2 separate regions of the Homo sapiens genome follow, and region 2 is linked to region 1. The links come from fine-mapping of genetic effects on gene expression. A gene starts in region 1. The other region holds a variant in brackets. All regions are shown on one strand. Distances are from middle to middle. Region 1 holds the start of SMOC1 (SPARC related modular calcium binding 1). Region 2 overlaps SMOC1 (SPARC related modular calcium binding 1).

What was found. PIP is the estimated chance that this variant, and not a neighbour inherited with it, causes the effect.
Region 2: its variant is fine-mapped to the expression of SMOC1 in aorta (GTEx, PIP above 0.99).

Annotation. Positions count from the first base shown.
Region 1 is chr14:69,870,326-69,882,914 of GRCh38, forward strand. It overlaps SMOC1 (SPARC related modular calcium binding 1), which reads left to right and starts at 9,091. Exons shown (of 12, transcript NM_001034852.3): 1 at 9,091-9,452. The coding sequence starts at 9,354. RefSeq lists a silencer at 9,189-9,278.
Region 2 is chr14:69,983,400-69,995,988 of GRCh38, forward strand. It overlaps SMOC1 (SPARC related modular calcium binding 1), which reads left to right. Exons shown (of 12, transcript NM_001034852.3): 6 at 9,018-9,074; 7 at 11,001-11,081. Among named protein-coding and RNA genes, the nearest start is that of SNORD169, 12 kb to the left of the region's middle. RefSeq lists an enhancer at 3,961-4,462. The variant T/G (reference allele first, on the strand shown) is at 6,583.

The DNA of each region.
Region 1 (12,589 bases):
GGTATACTATCTTCAAAAGTAGGAAAATGAATACAATTTGGGTTTATTATATTTAAATTCTTATTAACATTTCTAACAAAGCTGGCTTTCATTGTCTGTGGTAGTCAGCCTCCAAGATGGACCTAAATGATCCTAGCCTCCTGCTATTCACACCTTGTGCAGTCTCCTTCTACATTGTACCAGGGTTGGTCAGTGTGACCAACAGAATATGGCAGAAATAATGTGCCATGGTTTGAATGTTTGCCTCCTTCAAGAGTCACGTTAAAATTTAACCACCATGGAAACACTATGAAAAGTTGGGACCTTTAAGAAGTGATTAGGCCATTAGGATTCCCCCTTCATGGGTGGGATTGGTGTAGTTATGAAAGAGTGAGTTTGTCTCCCTCTAACCTTGCCCGTCCTGCTTCCACTATGGGATGACATATCCAGAAGTCTCCCACTAGTTGCTGGCCCATTGATCTTGGACTTCACAGCCTCTAGAGCTGTAAACCAATAAATTTCTGCTCATTATACATGACCCAATCTCAGGTATTCTGTCACAGCAGCAAGAACGGGCTAAGACATGATGGTGCATCACTCTTGAGATTAGGTTATAAAAGACAGGTGGGCTTTCTCTTTCACCACCCCCTCTGGGCAGGAAGTGAGCTATCCTGTTGTGAGACTCATGTGGAGAGGAATGGAGGTGGCCATCCAACAGCTGGTGCGGAACCAAGGCCTGCTAATGACCATGTGAGTGAGCTTGGAAGAGGATCCTCCAGCCCTAGATGACTGTAATCCTGGCTGACAGCTTGAGTGCAACCAGGACTGGCTACATAATTTTAGACTGTGATCCAGTGCAAAATGAAAATGGGGGCTCCTTTTTCAAAAATTACTAAAAAAAATCAAGACAGCAACAGCAGAGTATTAAGCCAAGTATAGGGCCTTTTGTGATTGTACCGTTTGCCTGCCCATGAAGCTGGCCCTGACTGCAATCTCCTGACAGACCCCAAGCCAGAACCACCAAACTAAGCCACTCCAAGATTCCTGCCACAGATACCATGAGATGAGAAATTTTTGCTGTTTTAAGCTGCTAAGTTTTGGGAGTAATCTGTTATATAGTAATAGGTAACTAATATACTATCCCTTTATTACTGCTTCTATAAATTATTTGTAAAAGGATTTTAAAATACCCATATGGTGAGATGAATTTTAAAACTGTTTTCAGTAAGAAACTTTCTACTCACACAGATCACCAGGGGCATATGTGATTTATCTAAAAGAAAAAAAAATGCCAAGAAAGATGGAATTTTACTTCCCATTTTCTCCTGGGTCCTATTTAATAAATGGATTTTCAGCTTGTTCTTGGATATTGTGACTATAGACAGAACCTCCTTTCAAAGTGGTGAATTCAATTTACCTCTTAATCTTTTACAAGGCCCTAATTCTTCTCTTTATATATAGTTTCCTATGAGCAACCATGAAAATGAAAAGAGAACAGCTATATAAAGAAAGTCATTTTGAAGAGAAAGAGACTATGAAACCTCAAAGCACCCTCTCTTTGTATTGTGAAAGTTGTCAAAATCAAAATGGAATCGCTAATATTAAGAAAACCCTGACAAATAGAGCTGAGGAAGGCCATGAGGAGTGGGTTTTTATATTTGTATGTCTGATCATAAAAGCTATAATAAAAGACCATAAAAAGCATGACCTTGTATAAAGGCCATATTTTTGTGAGGACATCTGTCCAGTAACTGTCTGTTTAACCTTGAACTGGTGTTATCTTTGTTACTAATCTTTATAGTCAAAGATAGTTATTTCAGAACAATTATGTAATCAAAATTTAAAAAAAATACTCAGATGGTAAATAGTTATAACTATTTTTCCTGAGCTGCTAAGTGTTAAAGGGATAAGAGTGATTTAGTTAGTCACAAATGTAGTTTCATATTCTCTCCTACCTCAATGCCTTTGCATATGCTGTTTGCTATGCCTAGTATGCCCTTCCCCTCACGCTTTATCCAGCTTAAATCAGACAGCCTTCAGGTCTTGACTTAAACATCACTTTGGCAGGGCACAGTGCTCGTGCCTGTAATCCCAGCACTTTGGGAGGCCGAGGAGGGAGGATTGCTTGAGCCCAGCAGTTCGAGACCAGCCTGGGCAACATAGGGAGATCCTGTCTCTAGAGATTCTGTCTCTACAAAATAAAAAGTTAGCCAAGTGTGGTGGCGTACTCCTGTGGTCCAAACTACTTGGTGGGCTGAGGTGGGAAGATTGCTTGAGCCCAGGAAGTTGAGGCTTCAGTGAGCCGTGATTGTGCTACTGCAGTCCAGCCTGGGCAACAGAGTGAGATCCCTATTTCAAAAAACGCCCCCCAAAACATCACTTCCTGAGGAAAATTATTACTGACTCTCCAGACTGGGTTACATACCTTTTAAAATAAAGTCCCCAAACACCTGTGCCTCCTTGCAGTACCGTGGATACTTGTAATTAGTGAATTAATTGTTGATAATTAGTTGCTTAATATCTGTCTTCCCACTAGACTGTAAGTTCCTTGATGTCATTTGCCTTTTGTCTTTGTTCACACTGCATACCTAGACCCTGGTGCAGTGTTTGGCACTCAGTAGGAATGCAGCAAAATTTGTTTGATTGACTGGTTTGCCTCTATGCCAATGGATTAGGACCACATGATGATGATTTATGATGGAGTATTAAACCACAGGCTGAATGAAGTCGTTGCGGTAATGCTTTCTCTGGAGCATCTAAACATGGTGGTTCTGGTCCTGAATACAAGGGAAATGCCCCTTTTCCAACTGGACTCTTGTATAAACAACACAGACTATTAAAGCAGGTGAATGGGGAAAATTCATACCCATGGATATTGAAGTCAGCCTTCAGCAATGAACAAAATAGCATGCACAAAAACAGTATGTGCTTCTGACTCTTAGGGGGAGAGATTTAACCCATTTATGCTGGAGATTGCAATTTTTTGAACTGCAAAATCAGACCTTGGCGATGACCTTGAGAAGTAGGATATAAATAACCCTCACATGCTCAGCATTCCAACAATGGAACACTAGGCATAAGTGGGTTAAGAGGATGCCAAATTTTTGGATGTGAATGCAAAATTTAAGAACTGCCCTTGGTAAATTTGACCTTTGTTGTTAAGCCTCAGTTCCTCATCTATCCAATGGGACCAATAGTAACAACCTCATAAGTTGGGTCTGAGGATATGAGATAAAGTAGGGAAAGTGCTTAGCAAAAGGTTAGCTTTTAGTACCCTCCACCCTCATAACAAGGTGGATTGGGGTTTGATTCTTATTCTGCTCTTTGTTTCTGGCTATGTGAGTTATTTAACCTCCCATAGTCTCAGTGTCTTCATTAGTGAAATGGAGAAAATAATGCTTCCTACCTTGTAGAGTAAATGCAAGAGTGTATACTAAGGTCTTCATTTTTGGCATTTGCTAAGCCCTCATAGTTGCTACAACTATTATTATTAATTTTGAACTAGGTTACAGAAAAACAACCCGGTGAAGAGAAAGATCCCTTTATAGGTGGAAGAGGGAGGGGAAATAAATAGAAACAGAAGAATATAGACAATTGCCAAAAATATTTTCACAAGATGTGCATTATTCCCAGTGACTATAACTGACCACTGGTCTCTTTAGGGGCTTATTTCTTGCCAGCCTGGCACCACATGGCTTGAGCTTCATTCCAGTATGTTCTCAGTTCCTCCCACTTGAACGTGCCTAAGGGAAATACCAGAAGGAAATTTTTGTGGCCACGAAGAGTCTGGGTGTCTGGCAGTAAGGCCAGTGTCTTAGTCAGCTCAGGCTGCCTTAACATAGACTGGGTGGCTTACAAACAATAGAAATGTATTTATCACAGTTCTGGAGGCTGGAAGTCCAAGATCAGGGTGCTGGCATGGTTGGGTTCTGGTGAGGCCAGATGGCCAACTTCTCTTTGTATCTACACATGGCAGAGAGCAGAGAGGGAAAGCAAACTCTCTTGTGACTCTTATAAGGGCACTAATCTCATTCATGAGGGTTTCACCCTCATGACCTCACCTAATCCTTTTTTTTTTGACTGTATATCATCATCATCTAATCATAATTATCTCCCAAAGGACTCATCTCCCAAGGCCATCACATGGAGCTGGTAGACTTTCAACATATGAATTTCAGGGAGACATATTTAGTCCATAAGAGCCATTAATATTTTCGAGTACCAGGGAGCTGGGTCTGCAGAACTAGAGGTAAACCACAGCTTGAATGCTGTGGCCTCCTTTTGTTTGGCAACTCAAGGACGACTCATGAGGATGGCCTCTACTTCTAATTGTGTCCCAGAATTGTATCCTTTCTTAGTAACATAAACGTTGACTTTTAGCTGTACACATGTGGTCACCTCCAATTAGGATTACATTTTTTAAAGCCCTTTTTTGCTGAATGTGGTCATATGACCAAGTTCTAGCCAATGAGACAAAATGAAACGTGACTTCTGGGAGGTGTCCTTAAAAAGAGGAGCATGCTCTTCTTTCCTCTTTTTCCTTCCTGTTGGCTGGAAAATAGATATGATGGCTGGGGCTTAAGCAATCATCTTGTACCACCAGGTAGAGCTGCTTATTATGACAGAGAAATAATAGAAGGAGCCTGGCTTGGAGGAAGCTGCCCGAAACTTTCAATGGAGTTGTGTACCAAAGAGAGAGCTAAATTTCTAAATTGTTTGTCACTCGAATTATTTTTGTCATGTGTATTTAAAGCTAAAGGAGTGACTTTGGTAAGGTTAAATGTCTGCGGGTAAACTTCATTTGCACACTGGGACTAATAATACTTACCTTAGCCTAATGCTAAGGTTACAGCAAGTTAGTCATAAATCTAAAAGCAGAACCTAGGAATCTTAATGTCTCAAGCTTCTAAGCTCACTAGTGTTTTTGACAAAAGTCTTGGACCTTAGATACAGTGTACCTCTTTCCATTGGTAGCTATTGTAACAAATGAAGCAAATATAAATCAGGATATATTTATGTTATAGAAGCACTCTGCTCCAGAGCCTCATTCAGGATCTACCTCCATCATGAGACCTTCCTGCCCATTAGGCCTACAGTGGGTCATCTCACTCTGAGTTCCTACAACACACTGCAGGCTTTACTCTTTTTTTTTTGAGACGGAGTCTCACTCTGTCGCCCAGGCTGGAGTGCAGTGGCGCAATCTCGGCTCACTGCCAGCTCCGCCTCCCAGGTTCACGCCATTCTCCTGCCTCAGCCTCCCCAGTAGCTGGGACTACAGGCGCCCGCCACCACACCTGGCTAATTTTTTGTATTTTTAGTAGAGATGGGGTTTCACCGTGTTCGCCAGGATGGTCTCCATCTCCTGACCTTGTGATCTGCCCTCCTCGGCCTCCCAAAGTGCTGGGATTACAGGCATGAACCACCGTGCCTGGCCAGCTTTACTCTTAAATGTGGTCCCCAGGTATCTCTCTGGTCTGTGTCTTAAATTAGATGGTAACCTCTCAGAGGGCTGGGTGTGCATCCAAAGATCCATCATAATAATGAACATTGTGCAAGGCGTAGAAGGAGGTGCATCAAAGTGCTTACTAAAAATGGATGAAAAGATTCTATTCTGAAGATGAGATGAGGAAAGAATCCTCTGGATTATATAGAAACACAGATATATATATATATATTTCTTTTTTTCTAGATGGAGTCTCGCTCTGTTGCCCAGGCTGGAGGGCAGTGGTATGATCTTGACTCACTGCAACCTCCATCTCCCAAGCAATTCTCCTGCATCAGCCTCCCGAGTAGCTGGGATTACAGGCATACACCACTGCACCCGGCTAATTTTTCTATTTTTAGTGGAGATGAGGTTTTGCCATGTTGGCCAGTCTGGTCTCAAACTCCTGGCCTCAAGTGATCTGCCCACATCGGACTGTCAAAGTGCTGGGATTACAGGGGTGAGCCACCGCGCCTGGCCAGAAACACAGATATATTTGAAACTGGCATTTCTAGTTAGTACTAAATATTTGAGGCCTTCAGACCTCAATCTGTGATATAAAGTATTAATTTTCATCTACTGAAATATCCCATTGCAAATAGAAGTCCCACAAGACAAGGAGTATGACTGAAACTGGACAAACCAGATGCCAAGATAGTCAGATTATTTTTGGACCATGAGTCTGGCCTCCAGGGAAAGAAGAAACTTGTCAATTTTACTTTTTTTGCTTGGATCAGAAGATTAAGCCTGGCAGAGAGATACTGTTTGGGACTAGTGGTTCTCTGGAATTCCTAACCTTCTCTGGGCTTGGGAGGAGTTGGGAGAAGAAAATGCATCATCTGAATGATGGCCATGGTTACAACAGGCCTCATATGCCAACCAGAGGGAAAGAAAATACTTGCTGAGCAGAGTAACTGGAAAGCAGTTGCTCATAGTTTGAACTAAACTACATGATTGAAATCCAGAATAATGTAGATTTTTGGACCAGTGAACACTTGGAAATAAGCTTTCTGGCTGGAAAGCAGCATTTGATGTTAGGGATGGAAAGGGCTATTGCAATGCTTTTTCCCTGGGCACTTTGTGCTGCCAGATACTCAGGGCCATCTGAAGCATATTTACTTACTCCAGCAGATTTCTCAATAGTTCCAGCAACAGGAAGGAGTTGACCAGCTTGATAGGTGAATGTAGCCAGGTGGTAGAGTCAGGAAAAGCCTGTCACACTGCTGAGCCCGATGGTAACAGTTCCATCCTGTTGAGCCCCTGGAGGGTGAACACTTAGGTGGACACATGGATATTGATGTCAGTGCTGCACAGGGCACGGTACTGGACAAGTGTCACAAGTCCAGCTGGGCAAACTCCAGGATGCCAGGTCACAAGGGCTGTTTCCAGGAAGGGCTGACCCCTGATGTTTACATCCTTTTCCTCTGAAGCTCAGTGGAGCTCACCAGTCTCAGTTCACCTTGTAGGCCACTGAAGAAATTCCCAATTAGCACAGAGGAACGTCCAACCCTATGGGATTTGAGACTGGAGATTGCAGCCATCACATGATGGAAGCAGAATTAGACTCCAAAAACCTTGCCTTGAGTCTCGGCGTCTCGGCTCTGTCATTTGCCAGCCAAATGAGGCCAGGCAAGTCACAATCTCATGGAGTATTCACTTATCTACCTGTAAAGTAGGAATGTCTGACCTATTTCAGAAGATTGTTCTGAGGATAAAATGAGATGAGGCATTTGTCCTGTCCTCTTCAAATGCCATATTGTGATACTTTTCACTTAATTATTTTAAGGGCTTTAAAGACTCCATCTCCTTTACTTTTGACAACATCTCATGGCAGGGGATACTATTTTTATCCCCATTTTACAGAGAGAAAAACGGGACCCTGGATGAGTCAAGTGACTTCTTCAAGCTTATACCACTAGGTGGCAGACTCAGGATTTGAACCCTGCTGTACAGCTCCAGAGTCTGTCTGACCAAAGCACTCATTCCCAGTGGAGGAAAAGATAGACCATTCTTTTAGAAGTGCGCTTCATTTTTGTTTGGAGAACCACAAGTACTTTGTTATTGTTCCAGCATCCAGTCTGAGCTTTCTTGTCAGAGGGCAATGGGGAGAGGGGAAGTCGTTTAAGCAGGGAATGGTGAGTTCCGGTTTGCTGCTTAAAAGGATCACTGGCTTCTAAATAGCGAATAGACACACTGGCTGCCGTGTGGAGGTTGGATGGGGCCAGTGTGGAGAGAGGGCAAAACTGAATTCAGGAGTCAGGTGCGAAGCTGTTTCATGGAATCCAGGAGAGAAGCCCTGAGGGAGCAGAGCTAATCTTAGGACCTCTCAGACCAGATAGGGAGGGGGAGTGTGGCACTGATGCTTACAATCAAATTATAGAAAAGAATCCCTCCCTGCGAAGTAGCCCATACTGATGGAAGTAAGCACTAAAGGTTGTTCTCCACATAAGGAGATCGCTCTGGGTTTCATTTTGCGCCCCCCCGCCCCCTTCCCTGTGATTTCCTGGAGATGTCAGTCTCACTGAAGGCAGCTGAGCACCTTGCTCTGTTGAGGAGCCGGTGTGATGCAGCTGTGACCATTCCCAAGATGGCCTTCCGGGGATGGCCCTGGGCAGAGCCCCCCAACATCTGACTGAAGCTCCGCTGAGCTGTCCTCTCCAAGAGGGTCGGGCACCCGGGAGAGATCTCCTCTCCTTGTTCTACCCCATCTCTGGGATCTCTGCATCCTCAGACTGCCGCCTCCTCATCTATACTTTTCCTCCTTGTCTCCCATCAGGGGACCAGGGCCTCTCTGCCCGCCTCTTCCAGAGCTGCTGGGCTATAGAGAGGCTGCCCCTTGCCCTCCAGTTCAGAGGGGGAAGCTAGGATGCCTGAGTTCCAATCCTGGATCATACGGACCATAGGGCTGGGAGATGTGTGTGTGTGTGTGTGTGTGTGTGTGTGTGTGTGTGTGTGTGTGTGTGTGTGTAGGGGGTTACCGTACCCAAGAGGCCCTCCCCAGCGGCCAATGCCCAGCACACGCTTCACCTTGTCCCTTGCGACTTCTCCCGGGGCAGCCGCTGTGAGACTCAGGATGTCACCTCCCAGGGAGAGTCTTTGAAAGAAGTGGATGCTCCCATTCCCCACTCCAACGCCACAGCCCACCCTGTGCGGGTCATCCAGCGACTTCCCAGTTACTCTTCCCAGATGCAGCAGGGAGGCAGATCTCTCGGCGCCTTCGTGTCACAGCATTCTCATCTGATAAATGGGGCTAGGAGTATTTTCCCTGCCTACTTCACCAGGATGTTGGGACAATCACGAGCTTGAGCTAAGAAATATACATGCTTAAGGCATTATTATTAGCCAGGTGAGCCTTCTGGTGGGTGCCGGCTGCTGGGGCTCTCTCAGGCTTCCTCGGGCAGGAGTGCCGGGAGAAAGTTACTCTTTATCCCACTCTCTCCCGGGGCCTACTCCCGCGGAGCTCCTCGGCGGGGGGTTGACCACGAGTGGCTCCTCTTGCCCCTCTCCCATTGGCTTTCACCTGCCAGAGGGTCGGCTTCAACAGGCCTCTTGGCCCGTCAATCAGGCCCGCCGTGCTCCGCCCCGCCCCTCCCGGGGGTTTATAACGGGAATTCCCATGGCCCGGGCTCAGGCGTCCAACCTGCTGCCGCCTGGGCCCCGCCGAGCGGAGCTAGCGCCGCGCGCAGAGCACACGCTCGCGCTCCAGCTCCCCTCCTGCGCGGTTCATGACTGTGTCCCCTGACCGCAGCCTCTGCGAGCCCCCGCCGCAGGACCACGGCCCGCTCCCCGCCGCCGCGAGGGCCCCGAGCGAAGGAAGGAAGGGAGGCGCGCTGTGCGCCCCGCGGAGCCCGCGAACCCCGCTCGCTGCCGGCTGCCCAGCCTGGCTGGCACCATGCTGCCCGCGCGCTGCGCCCGCCTGCTCACGCCCCACTTGCTGCTGGTGTTGGTGCAGCTGTCCCCTGCTCGCGGCCACCGCACCACAGGCCCCAGGGTAAGTGCGCCCCCAGCTTTGCGCCCACCTGCGGAGGGAGGGGAGGTTGCTTCCCCCCTCATCCCTGAGGGAAGGAGGAGGGGGAAGAGAGATGTCAGAGACCTGTTGTCCTCTGTCTACTACCAGGTCCCCTGCGGGCTTGGTGAAGTTGCTGAAATATTTTTTTTCTCCCATTGGAGCCACCACCACTCTCCCTTTCTTGACCCACCATCCCTCCCCTGTCCCCGAACTGTCACTGGTGGGTTTTCTTTCCCAATCTCTTCTCTCCTGCATTTTGCTCAAGACCCTCAGAGGTGCCTCCTGCGTCGGAGAGAAGCTCGCTCTCCGCTCATGCAGGGCTTCCCTGTGGTCTCACGCTGGCGCCCGGTCCAGCGCGCTGGAGTTGTTGGCAGGCGGCGGGGGTTGGGACGGGGGCGGGTGCAGCTCTGCCTGGAGAGTTTTAGGTTACCCGCGAGCCACACAAGGACCTTGTGTTGTTGTTTTAAAAAGCGATCACTGCTCGTAAAACCCACAGCAGATAATTTTAATGTCACCTCCTGCCGGGCAGGCACTGGAAGAGGGTCAGAGGTGGGGTACTGTAAAGAGGTGGGAGGGGAGAGTTGCGCAATGTTCAGGGGTCTCTCCCCCTGGGTTCAGTGCTGGGAGGTTGAATTACTCGTTGAACCTTGGTCTGATTGGAGTTTCTGAACGACATGAAACCTGCCAATTCTGTGCACAGGACAGATTGTCCAGGGCATTGTAAAATCTCCTGGAACCGACAGTATTGTGTTCATTTCTGGTCTAGATTATCCCCGCAACACCCCCCACCAATTGGTCTAATAAAGAATTTCACTGCCTTGAAACATGTACTATTAAACGACCTAGTGGTTCTTTTGACCAAACTTAATCCAGGCAATCTCTGGCCAAGCATCAGTTTATGTCAGGGCAATTGACTCTTAACTGGCAGCCTGAGAGTCCATGTGAAAGTAGCTAGGATCTTTGTGAAAACAAGGTTGGCTCAACCAACTCGTGCTTTCTTTCTTGAACATCCTTGGGCCTGGCCCTTTACCACCTGTTCAGATTGCAGGTTGTTTATTCATAGCTTTTACTATATGAGAATCATCTTTATAGCTGTCGTGTGGAGAAAAAGTCTTGCAATGCTTGACAAGTCTTAATGACTGCCCAGATGCTGGGTTGATTACATCCAAGCCCAGGTATCACTGTGAGATCAGATTTGCAGCCATTTAGGAAAGAAAAGTGTTTGTCCCCGTGTTGGGCCAGCCCTTGCTTTTATGACCAGATGTGCAACAGCAGCAGTTAAAGTGTGGCAGATTAGATCCAGGGCGTGTCATAAATCCTCGACAGCAGGCATTCCCAAAGCTGGGGCAAGTAAGGGCTCCAGGAGTGACTTTTATGGATGCAGATGAGGATGCCTTTTAAATGAAGCTGCTTGGTTTGATATTAGGACTCAGAGCTCTTAAACTCTGAGGTCAGGCGAGCCATGCGTTCCCTCCAATAATTAGGAACAGTCAAGACAGAGATGCAGACCAGAGCACCCCGACTGAAATCTGGATGGCCGCCCACAGGAGGGTCGAAAGGAGAGAGGCCCTGAGACAAATGGTGGGGGGCTCGTTTGTTTGCTGCTGGGCTTGTCTAGAGTCTCAAGCCATATGGCTCTCCTTCCTGGCCTCCTGGAATCAGAGGAAGCAACCTTTAGGGGAAAGCTAGGGACTTGAGGGGAAATCAGGCACCGTGGTTAGGTTCCTTCCAGCTCCTCTAGTTTATTAATTTGATAGAAGTGATGGAACGTAAGCAGGAATTGTAAATAGGCTGGTGTATGTCCAAGCTGCTTCACACTCTCTCTCTCCTTCTTTCTTTTTTTCCCTCTTTCTCTCTCTCACTCAAATACATACATGCACAAACACACACACACATGTGCACACACATCTTGGTGTGTTTAGAAAGTACCAAGGAGAAGGTGCTGTCTCGAGCATGTGGTTACCTGGTTGTGTTTATAGATAACAATAAGAGCTACCACTTATGAACATCTGGGCTGGGCACTTTACATGATCTCTTACTCGAACGAGAACAAGAAGTTGGGTCTTTTAAAAGCCATTTTACAGATGACAAAGTGAGACTCAGGGTGGCCAATCGACTTGCCTGAGCTTCCAGTTTATATGGATTGAAAAGTTGTGTGCTCTCCCCACCACCAGGCAGCTATAGTGAGTGTTCATCCGAGTGATGCTGTTTCTGTTAAAGAAAGAGATGGCTCGATGAGAAATACAGAACCCGGATACATCAGGGGAGTCTGCAGAGAAATTGTTAATATTTTTTTGGTGTCTGTATCACTTAAGGCAAATGACTGAATTTCAACCTATCCCCAAAGACTCCAGTTCTTTTCTATGGCTTATTGGGGGCCTCAAAAGTGTAGCTCTGGTTGTTGAGAGCGGCGTCATCCGAGGAGCAGAAACATCTGGCTTGTTGCATTATTCCCTGTGGGCGCTCCTAAGTCTCTTCTGTTAATCTTTTGAGTGACAGAGGCTTAAGGATTGGCATCTTTTCCAGCTGGCTTTCTAGGAAACCAAGAGCATGCCCTTTCAGTTTAACTTTATCTGGCTCACTAATTGAGCTCCCCCGAGGCCTAGACCCCAGTCCTCGCCCCCTTATTTGCTTCCTGCCTTCCTTCATAAAATTCTTGACATTTGTTTGACTCTGGAAACCAGCGGCTATCGAGTATCAGATTGGAGGCTATTATGTAGGAAGCACCTGATTTTGGGGTCTCTCAACTGTGAGTGGTTGCTTGGCTAGCTGGGACGTTGGTCAGGATTCTTTTAATCACTGAGGAGGCAGCCGTTTCTTTAATCCTGCACAATTTACTGAAAATGTTTCAGGGGAGGATGGGATGGGGGAGGGGCTCTCCCTGGCTGATGGTGTCTGGCCGATGGTCAAGCCAACTGCCTGTCTTTGTTAAATTCTGTGTCTCCCTTGAAGATGGAAAGCTGGGTGAAGGCAGGAACTGTTTCTGTCTTGTCCAGGGATTTATCTCCAGAGCTCAGCAAGGGGCCAGACACCTGTCAAGATTTACTTTGTTGGTACTGATGGAATGAACAAATAAATGCAGATAATGTGTGTTTGAGAGTGATTACAGGTTCCACTTT
Region 2 (12,589 bases), 110 kb after region 1:
CGAGTCCAGGCCTCACCTCCTGGAGCTCACATTCTAATTGTTCTTAGCCTTTTATGATGGAGGTTATTCATCTTCAGGTGGAGGAAAACCTCCAGCGGAGCAGCAGGCTTCTGTAAGCTCTGGGAAGTTGCCACCTCTGCAGGGGAGGGAAGGCAGGTGGCCCCTCCAAACAACCCTGTGTGGTAGCTCCTGTAGCCAGAGCCTCTAAGGAAAGCCCCTTGGAGCGGGTGGCCTGAGCTGAGCAAAGCCCTCTGCCAGGTTCCTGAGCCCTCTGACTAGTGCCTTTGTGGGGCCACTGAAGTCCAGGTGAGAGGGCTCAGAGCTTGTCAGGCCAATGAGAGTATGTTCATTTGCTCCCTGCTCCCGGCCTAAGTTCCAGTGTGGCACAGCAGCTTGCAGAGAGGTAGGGATATGGGCACATAGGTGGACAGGCCTTGGGCCTGCTTCTGACCCCTGGTCTCCAGCTCAGAGGGCCACAGAACTCGTGTGGTAAAGGCCGAGGAACTGTCACTCTCAGGTTCCATTGCAGTGATCCTGTGCTTGCAGAAAGAAAGATGTGAGATTCAAGGGCTGATTATTCTCAAGTTTCTTCGGAAAGGCAATGGAACTAGAATAGCTGAAACAATTTTGAAAAAGAAAACTAAAGTGGGAGGAACCATTTTATCTGATTTTAAGATGAATAAAGCTAGAGTTCTAGAGATAGTGTGGTATTTGTGGAGTAACAGATGCATGAATCAATGGAACAGAATAGAGGACCCAGAAACAGATCCACAAACAAATGGTGCTCTAGCAATTGGACATCCACAGACCAAACAAATAAAATTAACAAATCGACCCCAAAGCCTCAACCTAAACCTCAGACCTGATATGAAAATGAATTCAAAATGGATCGTAGACTTAAATGTAAAATGTGAAGCTATTAAAACTTTTAGAAGAAAACAAGAGAAAATCTTCACCACCAAAAACATAATCTAGAAGATAATATATATAAGTTGAACTTTAAAATTTGCTCTGCAAAAAGTGCTGTTAGAGAATTAAGAAAAAACTACAGCCTGAGAAAAAATATTTGCAAACCGTCTATCCAACATAGGACTCATATCTAGAGAATATAAACAACTCTTAAAGCTTAGCAGCTAAAAAACAGTTTAATTAGAAAATGGTGGCCTGGCATGGTGGCTCACACCTGTAATCCCATCACTTCGGGAGGCTAAGGTGGATGAACCACTTGAGGCCAGGGGTTCAAGACCAGCCTACCCAACATGGTGAAACCCTATCTCTACTAAAAAAAAAAAAAAAAATACAAAAATTAGCCAGGCATGGTGGCACGTGCCTGTAATCCCAGCTACTCAGGAGGCCGCGAGGCAGGAGAATCACTTGAACCCAGGAGGTGGAGGTTGCAGTGAGCCGAGATCGCGCCACTGCACTCCAGCCTGGATGACAGAGCGAGACTCCATCTCAAACAAACAAACAAACAAACAAACAAAAACAAAAAATTAGCCAGGCATGGTGATGTGCACCTGTAATCCCAGCTACTCGGAAGGCTGAGGCAGAAGAATTACTTGAACCCAGGAGGTGGAGGTTGCAGCAAGCGAGATCATCACTCCAGCCTTGGTGATGGAGTGAGACCCTGTCTCAAAAAAAGAAAAAAAAAAAAGAAAAGAAAGAAATTGGCCAAATGCACAAATAGACATTTCACCAATTTCACCAAGGCAGACAAACAGAGGGCAAATATGCACACAAGAAGAGGCTCAGCATCATTAGCCACAGGAAATGCAAAATAAGTCCATGGCAGGATGTCACTACATATCTATTAGGAGAGCTAAAAGAAAAAGTAGTGTCAACACCAAATGATAGTGAGGCTGCCGAGAAACTGGACCTCTCATACATCGCTGGCAAGAATAACATGGTACAGACACACTGGAAAAATACTTTGGAAGTTTCTGAAAAACAACTAAACATACATATACCATATAATCCAGCAGTTGCACTCCTGAGCATTTATTCCAGAGAAATGAAAATTTATGGCCACACACACAAAAAACCTGTACACGAACAAGAAGCAGCTTTATCTGTAATAGCTGAAAGTAGAAAAAAAACCCCAAATGTCCTTCAGTGGATGAAACAAACTGTGGCACAGTAGTACTGCCCTACCCACGGCCAACCATGGTCTGAAAATATTCAATGGAAAATTTCAGAAATAAACAATTTGTAAGTTTTAAGTTGTGAGCCATTCTGAGTAGTGTGATGCAATCTCACACTGTCCTGCTCCCTCCCATCTGGGATGTGAATCATGACTTTGTCCAGCATACCCATGCTGTGTACCCTCCCTGTGACTTGGGGCCAGCTCTGTTATCAAGTGGATAGATTGCAAAATGAAGAAGGATGAATACAGTACAATCAGATATTCTGAGAGATAGACAATATTCATATAACTTTTATAAAAGTACATTGTTATAATTATTCTATTTTATTATTAGTTATTATTGTTCATCTATACCGTGCCTAATTTATAAATAAACCTTTATCATAGGTATGTATGGGGAAAAAACAGGATGTATAGGGTTCGGTTCTATCCGCGGTTGAAGGCATCCACTGGGGGTCTTGGAAGGTATCTGCTGTGAGTAAGGTGGGATCCCCTATCCATCTATACCCTGGAAAAATACTCAGCAATAAAAAGGAATGAATTGTTGATATATGCAACCACAACTTGAGTGGATCTCAAGGGCATTATGCAACATGAAAAGAGCCCATTTCAAAAGGTTGTATATTGCATGATTCCATTTATATAACAGTCTAGAAATGACAGCATTATAGAGATGGAGAACAGATTAGTGGTTGCCAGGTGTGAGGAATGGGGTGGAGGAGGGAAAGTGTGACAGTAAAAGTGGCACAAGGGAGATCTTTGTGCTGATGGAATAGTTCTAGGCTGATGGTGGTGGTGGTTACCTGAGTCTACACGTGGATAAAATTGCAGAGAACGATACACACAAATGAGTGCATTTAAAACTGGTAGAATCTGAATAAGGTCCATGGATTATATGAATATCAGTGTCCCGATTTTGATTTTGTACTAATTATGCCACCCAGATAATTAAAGAGCTTACCCATATCATTATGCTAACTATAAAGCCGTTACCATTGGGGGAAACTGGGTGAGGGGTACACAGGACCTCTCTGTATTATCTTTGCAACTTCCTGTGAATCGATAATCATTTCAAAATAAAAAGTTAAAAAAACATTAGCCGAGTCTTCTGTGTGAACCCAGCCCTGACCAGGCTCCTCTGCTGCCGGTGCTTCCTCTTCCTCTTCTGTCCCCAGTTTGCCTTTTCCCCAGCCTTCTGTTTTTGCTCTTCTTCAGCTCAAGGATGTGAGAACTGCCTGCAAAAAGGCAGCTTTCAGCTTGTTTTCACTTCTTTTGGGAGGGAACATGCAGGTAGGTATACGGAATATAAAACACTGACCTCCTGCTTTGGAAAGAACCTGACATGCCCGACCACTTCTGCTCCTACAGATCAGAATCAGGACAGTTCACCATCCATTTCTGAGCCTCGCTGGTCATGGCGCATGCATCTCAGGAAATGTTGAGGTGGCCTAGCATTCCATCCTCCTCTGGGTCTGATTCAGGGCAGGCTCTTAAGGGACTTTTGCAAACAGACACTGTTGTCTCCTTACGATGCCCAGAATGAGTTGTCTCCACTTCCACATTGAGCCTCAGAATCACATGTGGAGGGGGATGGTGGCTCTGGCATAAATGTGGTCCCTTCAAAGCAAGAACCTTCGAGCACTTCTACCAGGCTGAAGTTTATCTCCATGTCTTTTTCAAAGATGGACAATGGCAGCCTGAAAGAATATGAGGGAGGGTCACCAGTGATGGACATGGTTTGGGGAGAGCCCAAGAATTGAAGGGGACTTGGGATTGTTGACAGACCTTCCACATCTCAGAATGGGGGAAGTGGTTTCTTTTTTCCTCATTCTCCAAGGCTTCTCAGTCTCAGAGACCCCAAGAGATGCCATTAATACAGATTCCTCCTCTGGCTCCTTTGAGACATTTGCTTTTGAAGGACCTGGAAGAGAAAGCTCTTTGTATGTGGCCAGAATAAACTCATTGTACACCCAAACAATTAACTCCTCAATGGACTTGCCAGCCCCTTGAAAGGCCTGGCCCTGCGTCCCTGGACCTCTTGGGCTCTATTCAGTCCCTTAAGCACACCAATGTTTTTGGGTTTTTGTTTTGTTTTGTTTGTTATTCTGAAAAGTCTTTCCCTGAGAATAGTCTGAGCGGATCAACATTGTCCTCAGCCTGGCATTTATCTCTCCTCGCCAGCGAATGTCAATCAGGAATCAAAAAGCCAAACAGAGGAGGCTTTGAACGGTGTCATCGGGGGTCGAAGTGACTTCCAGCTGTCTGTGCGTGGGCCAGGCCTTCTCGCAGGGCAAGGAATTGTGCTGTCACACAAACCCACTGTCTGTATAGGCTCACAGAGCCCATGCGGGGGCTGCAACTTTCTGGGGCTGCACCTGCAAGGACAAGGCGTGACTGGGGGTTGGGGAATCTCCGGAGGCCAAATGCCAGGGCTCTGGGACCAGGCAGTTTCCAAAGCTGCTTGCTGCCTCTGGGACCTTGATCAAATCACTTACTTGCATTGTTATTCAATTCTCTTTTTATCTGCCTGGTTTCTCCCTCCGCCCTGGCTGGTGGTGAGAATAGATGAGGAAAGCTACCTGCCAGGAACTGAGTGTTGCAAAGTGTGGTAATACTATTATTACCGTTGCTCTTGACATCCTCCTTGAGAATTCTTTCAGTTTGCCTTATTTGTTGTTTGTTTTCATGTTTCCAAATTTGCCTTTTTTCTCCCTCCCTGTAAGAAAAAGGATAATCTTTGAATTGGCTTTTTTTTTTTCAGTGTTTATCCTCTTCCTTTTAATATGGAAGATTATTATAGTATTAAAGAGAAATACTCTCTGAGGTCCAAAAGAATCACGAAGAATATACACCAAACATCATCACATGCATATACAGATTCACATACATTTTTCTTTAAAACAGTGGAAGAGTCTTCCCCCAAATTAAGGACCACTCAAATAATCTAGCTGCTGCTGCCTCATGATTTATTTGTGATGACTTGGGCACACCTCCCTTTTTGTTTTAACAGCTTTATTGAAGTATAGTTTACATACCGTAAAATTCACTCATTGTAAATATACAACCCAATGAATTTAATAAATTCATAGTGTTGTACAATTGTCACCAGAGAACATCTCCATCACCCCAAAAAGCAACCTTGAACCCATTCACAGGTATTTTCTACTCCTACCTGTAGCTCTAGGCACCCCCAGATCTGTTTTCTGTGTCTATAGATGTAGCCTTACTAGACATTTCATATAGATGGAATCATACAACATGTGGTATTTACATCTGGATTTTTATACTTAGCATAATGTCTTTGAGATTCTTCATCTACATTGTCACATGTATTAGTAATTCATTCCTTTTAATTGCTGAATAGTATGCTATCATATGGATATATCACAATTTATTCACCAGTGGACAGACATTTGGATTGTTTTCAGTTTGAAGCTTTAATGAATAATGCTGCAGTGAATATTTCTATACATGTCTTTGTGTGGGCATGTTTTTATTCTCCTAGATGGATTCTAGGAGTGGAATTTTGGGGTTAAAAGTTGATGTTTAGCTTTTTAAAGAGACTGTCAAACTCCTTTCCAAAGTGGATGCCCAGTTGTACATTCTCACCAGCAATGAACAAGGGTTCCATTTCCTCCACATCCTTACCAACACTTAATATTGTCTATCTTTTTATTTTAGCCATTCTAGTGGCTGTTTAGAAGTATCTTGTTGTGGTTTTAATTTGTACCTTCCTAATGATTAACAATGTTGGATATCTTTTCATGTATTTATTAGCCATCTGTATCTCTTCTTTGGTGAAATGTCTGTCAAAATATGTTGTCCATATTTAAATAAGGTTGCTTGTTATTGAGTTGTAAGGTTTACCTTATTTTCAATTTAAAAACTTTGATAGGATTTTAATTTTGTAAACCCAATTTTAAAAGTAAGCAGTTGAATAAGATGGTTTGCACTCATGGAATTATAGATGCCCTTTAGTGGGCCTTTAAAGTGTTTTACACCTACACAAAAAAGTGTCCCGAGATTTTGTAGGCAGGTATCCTTCAATTTTAGAAGAGGATATTGCTATCCAGAGAAGTAAAAGGAGGGGCTCAACTTATCCAGAGTAAACTTATTACATGTGAAGGGGGATTTGGAGTGTGACTCCCCTTAAGACTGGGAGGCAGGAGCACATATAGAAACCTTGTTCTCTCCCCAGTGCCCAGTGTGGGGCCTGGTGTTGCTCCAGGGCTTGCCTGGAAGCAGAACTGATGTAGACCTTGGACCTAGGCCTTGGACTTGTGTTTGGTAGAAGAGGTGCTCTTATTTGCTGGGTCAGAAGCCAGGAGCCCAGGTGCCCGGAGATGATGGTTAGAGGGTGCTGTTCGCTTTGGCTTGGCTTCCCAGCCTTTGAGCATGCTGGATGTCACAGGTGATTCCTGGCAGCAGGGCATCTTGTC[T/G]TTTCTCACTTCATAAAGATTTCCATTTAGGACCTCCCCGTGGCAGAGCAGCTGTATCTCTTCACCCTCAGTGACCCTACCCTGCAGGAAGATTCCTTCCCTGCAAGTGGCTTTATGCCTCATGGGCTTCTCTGACTACATCTGGGAAATCTGTGGAGGTCCTTGACCTGCAAAAGGGCAAAGCTTCCCCAAAAAACCTTTTTGCCCTCCTTGAGTGCAGACCTTCTTTGCTGATGGCTGGGCCCGATGGGCAGTCCAAGATTTTCATCTGGATGATGGGAGAAATAAACAGAATGTTTTCAGTTGTCTTGCTCCAGAGAAGAGATACAGTTCTTGTAATATGGGAGGATTTTCATACCTACATTGAATATTAAAATATTACATAAGCCATATGCACTTGAGTTCTCATTATCATCCCTCCTGGAATGTTTGATTTTTCACTTTCCCTTTGTTAGCCTGTAAGACTCCTAAAATGAAGCCACCCTGTGTGGAAGGGCTGAGCACACTGTGCTGGACTATTTAGACTGTGAACTCTGTATCTGGCAGGCACAACCAAATGTGCATTGCAGCTGCCAAAAGACTCAATTCAGTGGCTCATTGAATTCAATGGAAAGAGGTGTTAATAGAGTCAGGGGAAGTGATGCTATTAAAAAAATGACATTGTGTGGCTCTGTTCTGTGTTTATTCTCCCTCAAAGACTTCCAGATCAAACTCACACAGTTTGGCATCAAAAGATGCCTGTTTTGGACTCCAGTTTGAGGCAAATAGTATATCCAGCATAGATACTCTTCTCTTCCTGCTACATCTCATTTCTTGGGATGATTGTCAGATAATTCAGGATCACTTTGGCTTCTGCAAGAGTTGGGTCTTGGTGTCAGTACATGAGAATAATATCAGGGTCAGGTGTCACCCGACTGTCAGCTCAGCTGCTGGCCTCAGCCTCTAACAAGGGTTAGAGTCTCCATAGCTCTTGAATCTTAAGCTCCCAAGGGTGAGATGTTGATGCAAAAAGGAGATCAGGACTCTGTATTCTCTCTCCCTCCCCCAATAAGATGCACGAAAGTCGGCCAAAGGTACTGAGAGCTCCAAATGGTAGAGGGTTGTTATTATTGATGATCTGACTGGCGTCACAGAGACTATCTGAGAACTTGCAATCTGCATAAATAGTTAATGCTCAGAGAATATAGTGTTCCATCCTAAAAGACCTCTAAGGGGTCTTGAGAAGAGAGGGATGGTGTAATCATCAAACCGCCTGAGACAACAGTGCTCTCCTTCCCTCCCCCCGTGGAGAGAAATCTCTTAAACTATATAACCTTAAGAGGGACAAAGATACCCTCTCCAAGCCTTCTCTAAGGGGGTAAAATTATTTCTTAGGGGATGAAAAACACTCATTTTACATATGAAGCACAAATATATATACTGTTTCTTTGCATTATTAAAATTTTATTAGGGAGATGATTAGGAAAAAATTACCTAAAAATGCTCCTTAGATGAGTGATAATGGAAAAAAGGTTGAGAAATACTGCTATAAGCTAAGGTTTTTGGGGCCCTGATGAAAGAACTCAGAGTCCTGGAAGGTAAATAAAGTCTGCACTAACTCCTGACCTGCAGAGGTTCTTGCTGTGCAGAGAGGACTGCCAACACTATTAGAATGATAAGCATTAGGACTTTGTTACTGGGAGCTCCCTGCTCCAATCATCTATGTTAGAAATTTCAAAGCAAGTCTAGGGTGATTTCTGCAAAGTCCCATGTCCTCTCCCATTTTGCTTGCCCTCCCTCTTATTGGGAATTGGGGTGTTTGCTATTTCACAGTTAGAAGCATTCTAATGATTCCTGATTCTCTTCAGTTCCGTGTGCTGGAGAGAGAATGGTTCTTCCTGCCTTCTTATCTGTTTTAGGTGAAAGTGGAGAAACAGTGAGGAGATTGGAAGGGAATGGCACACAGGTCTCTTGTTTTCCTTGAGCTCTTTAATCAGGGCCACTGAGCTGGTAGCTTTAGGGCAGGAAAGGAGCTGGGGACACCATAATTTGATGCCATAAGGATTGCCAACCTTATGCTAACATGCCTGGCCATAACTCAGGGCTGAGGGGGAGATACTGCCTCCCAGTTTTCCTGCGGGAACAAGGGCCAGCAGAGTCATACTGGTATCCTCAGATTTGTGAGAAACGGTCCCCCAAAGCCACGAAGCTTTAACTCCTTTCGTCCATGCCTTGGGATGGTGAACACACACCTGGATTTGTTTTGTTGTTTTGTCTCTCTATGGTTCTCTTTTCCTTCTTGCCCTTTTCTTCTTTTGTTTCTTTTTCTTTGTTCTCTTCACTGGGACTTGGCCGGGCCTTGTACAAACCCCAACCATTCAACAGTGCTGGAGAGTAGATAGTATTTACCTCAATAATGGTAGTCTCCTTTCGATTCTTTTTAACCCTCAATTCAGATGACGGGTCTAAGCCGACACCCACGATGGAGACCCAGCCGGTGTTCGATGGAGATGGTAAGATCTTGCATTACTTCTGATGTTCATTCTCCCACTCATTTTCAGGTTTGGGAAAAGTCTTAACGTTGGATGTTTGTTTAAGTTTTATTATTATTATTTTCTTTTTTAATTTCAATTTTTCCCAGTGTAAGCTGGGTTGTTTTAACCTTTTTAAAAAATGCAGATCCTCCCAGGAATTGGTACACTCTCCACTTCTGGAAGGGCCCTCTGTTCTCTCAGGCTTCCTGCCTGTCTCCTGGTGTCCAACAATAACACAGCCTGGACAGACCCTTGGAGCTGCCAAGACCCAGGAATCACAGCTGAGAAAGATAGTCAGGCCGGCAGTGTCCCTTCAGTAAATTAATTGGCACTTGCAAGTGTCCACTCTGTGCCTGGCACTGTGTGAGCCCCTCTGGGGGATGAAAAGGAGGTTTGGAGATGTAAACCTTTGCTCTCAAGACAGCTGCAACTCTTAGAGTGCTTTAAATTACGGGGTCTCCGTTCTTATTGTCATAGACATTTATGGAAGAAAGAGATCACCATGGTCTGGGAAAAGCTTTTGTGAAGAGCCAGGACTTGAGCTGGATCTTGAAAGTGGTGGGGAGGAGTCTGAGTGTTCCAGGCAGGGTGCTGGCATGGACAAGAGGGGAATGAGGTAGGGATGGGATACAGTGAGGAAAGTTGCAGGAAGGAGATTGGCCAGTGGGACTGGTTTGTGTAGGTTGTAGGGACGTTGAGAGTTGAGGCAGGACATTTTGGAGAGGAGAAATTCTAGGTCAAGAGAAATTGTGGCTGGTGGCAAAAGAGAGGCTGGAAGTCTCTGGAGGCATAGAGAGAGGATAGGAGTGCGGGGTGCAGGAGGTTCAAGTTGGAGGTGCTCAGGGCCTGTACTCTAAAGTTTACTGTACTGAGTACTCCATATTCCCTTGATGAGGAACTGGAAGTTTGGCAGAGTGAAGTCTCTAAAGTATGACAATAAGGTTGGGATTTTAGTGCAATATGTAGCAAACTTTGAGCAGCTCCTAGCTAAGCGTATCCAGCCCTGGATCATGAGACTGGGCAGAGTGACAGAAGAATAAAAAGAAATCATGCCACGGGTTAACACTGTGGCTATGGATGTCCCTAGCACAAGCTTAGCTCTGAGGAGGATTGAAATGTGCAATATCCTTTGCAATCAGCTCACTTATGGGAAGTTTTGTATGTTCATGTCTAAAAGTTTAGATGTAGATGTCTCTGTGATCCACAAAGGTCCTGGATCATTGACAAGTCTGGGACCCTGGGGGGTCAGGTGAGGGATGGAGACTGTCTCATCTTGGGAGACCTCCCCAATACCCTCATTGAAGGTCACTCCACAGTATGCTCAGGTCACTTAGGATTCCCATCTGTCCACTGGGTGACCAAATCCTGGAGAGGCTGGAGGCACCCTGGCACTCTCTTGATGGAGGAATTCAGCCTCTGCGCATGAGAAGCCATTAGAAAGGGGATTGAAGCACACATGAGACGCACTCCTTTCTTTCCCACCTGGAGCAATCTCGGCTCAGCCGTTTCCCCTAGAATGGTCTCTGTGGTTTGTTTGGCGTTCGTTTGTTGATTTATCCCCTTTAAATCTTCTCCCAGGGAAGCAGCTGAGAGGGACTTGGCTTGGCCCATGTTCCTTACCTCCTGGGATAATATTTTTATTCCTGGATGGAGTGCTCAGTGCCTCTGCATTCTGACCACTCTGCTTCCCAGCACAGGATGCCCTGATCGGCTCTTATGAGCTGTTGGGGAGAGAAGCTTCCGTTGTGAGGAAGGGAGGGGAACTGGGAGGAGTGGATGTGGGAGAGAGCTGAAGCCTCAATGCCTCAGACTTTGAAAAATGACTATTAAGAAGTCTGAGGTTACACTTCCACTCACATAGTCTCTTTGCCCAGACTTTTTCTCTCTCCTTTTCCTCACCCCTAGAAATCACAGCCCCAACTCTATGGATTAAACACTTGGTGATCAAGGACTCCAAACTGAACAACACCAACATAAGAAATTCAGGTAAATAACCTTCCTTGGATTATATATGTACCCAGTCCATCCTTCCTTGCCCCGTGGTTCTGTGACTACTTATTGTGTGGGTTTGGAAAAATCATTTAATCTGTCTGGTTGTCAATTTCTATAGCTATAAAATAAAGAGATTGGATAAGTTAATCCCTTCCAACTTTAATTTTCTTCAATTATCATCTCAGAGATCATCTTTCTTAGGTCGTTGATCCTCTTAACAAATTTCTTTGACTGTATATTATAATATTTTGGTTAACTTTCCATATGCCATGCAGAAGAATTTGAAAGAATGACTGGACATAAAGAAGTTGGACTTCAAGCCTGGAGGGAGTCGATTCTGTGTGTTTTGAAGGCTCTAAATAGGTGCTTACAGTCATGTCTTCTCTGGTCTGATCTTTTGGTAGGGGGTCTTGTGAGTGGTCAAGTTTGAGCACTGGCTGAACCCTCTGTAGAAAGTGATAATTTTTGAGGGGTGATCATATTTGTAGGATTTTTTTGTAGACTCTATTTAATAACAATAAAGACCAGAGTCAGTAAAGTCTATTTACTATCAATAAAGACTGAATGTTCATCAACAGGAAAATGTGTTCACAAGCGAAATCTGTATCTCTATCAAGGAGGATCATCTTTTCAACCGAAGACTTCATTATGCGAAATACCACTCTGCATAATTTATGCCTGGTTGTTGAATTTAGCCCTATCTTCTTTTCCTTATAGGTGGCAAGACTATGAACAAAAGATATATGACTTTGAACCAGCAGGCAGAATTTTACATGACAATCAATTAATGAGTGTCCTGTCATTGGTCCCCTTTAAGTTGACCTGTTCACCAGCTCTGTCCTAATGGTGGCGATGTGGCATTAGAATGCAAGGAATTATATAGACCAGGAGGTGAATTCACACGCCATCAGTTGAGTTCCTCTGTGACTTGGGCTGGTCATTGCCTTTTCATGTGTCTGTTCACTGATAAAAGTTGGAGATATGGGATGGTGGAGTGAAAGGAGACTGTGAACCCCCTTGGGTCAGTCTTTGACAGAATAGTGCAGTGGTTAAAGCACAGGCTTTGGAATTAGTGAAACCTGGGTTCACATTGTAGCTCCAACACTTAGTGACCCCAGTCAAGTCACATAATTCCTTTGAGCCTCAATTCTCATTCACAAAATGGGAATCACAATCTCTCCCTCAAAGGACTATGGTTAAAAGTTAACTAAGATAATGTCTATATGGCACTCAACTGATGCCTGGCTAACTGATAAATTGTAAGTACATATATTTATTATTATCATTATTATTGGTATGAATAACGGGAATAGTAATGATGGTGCTTATTTTGAAAATTCTTCAATCAGAAAGAATTTATGATTGTCACCTTAAGCAAAGGCATCTATTAGGCTTCTTCTTAGGACCCCCTCTATTCCCCTTTCCCTGTTAGGCAAATATAAATCAAATAGAAGTGGTTTTGGTGCCTGTAGTACCTGGTGCCGGAAGTAACATTTGCAACT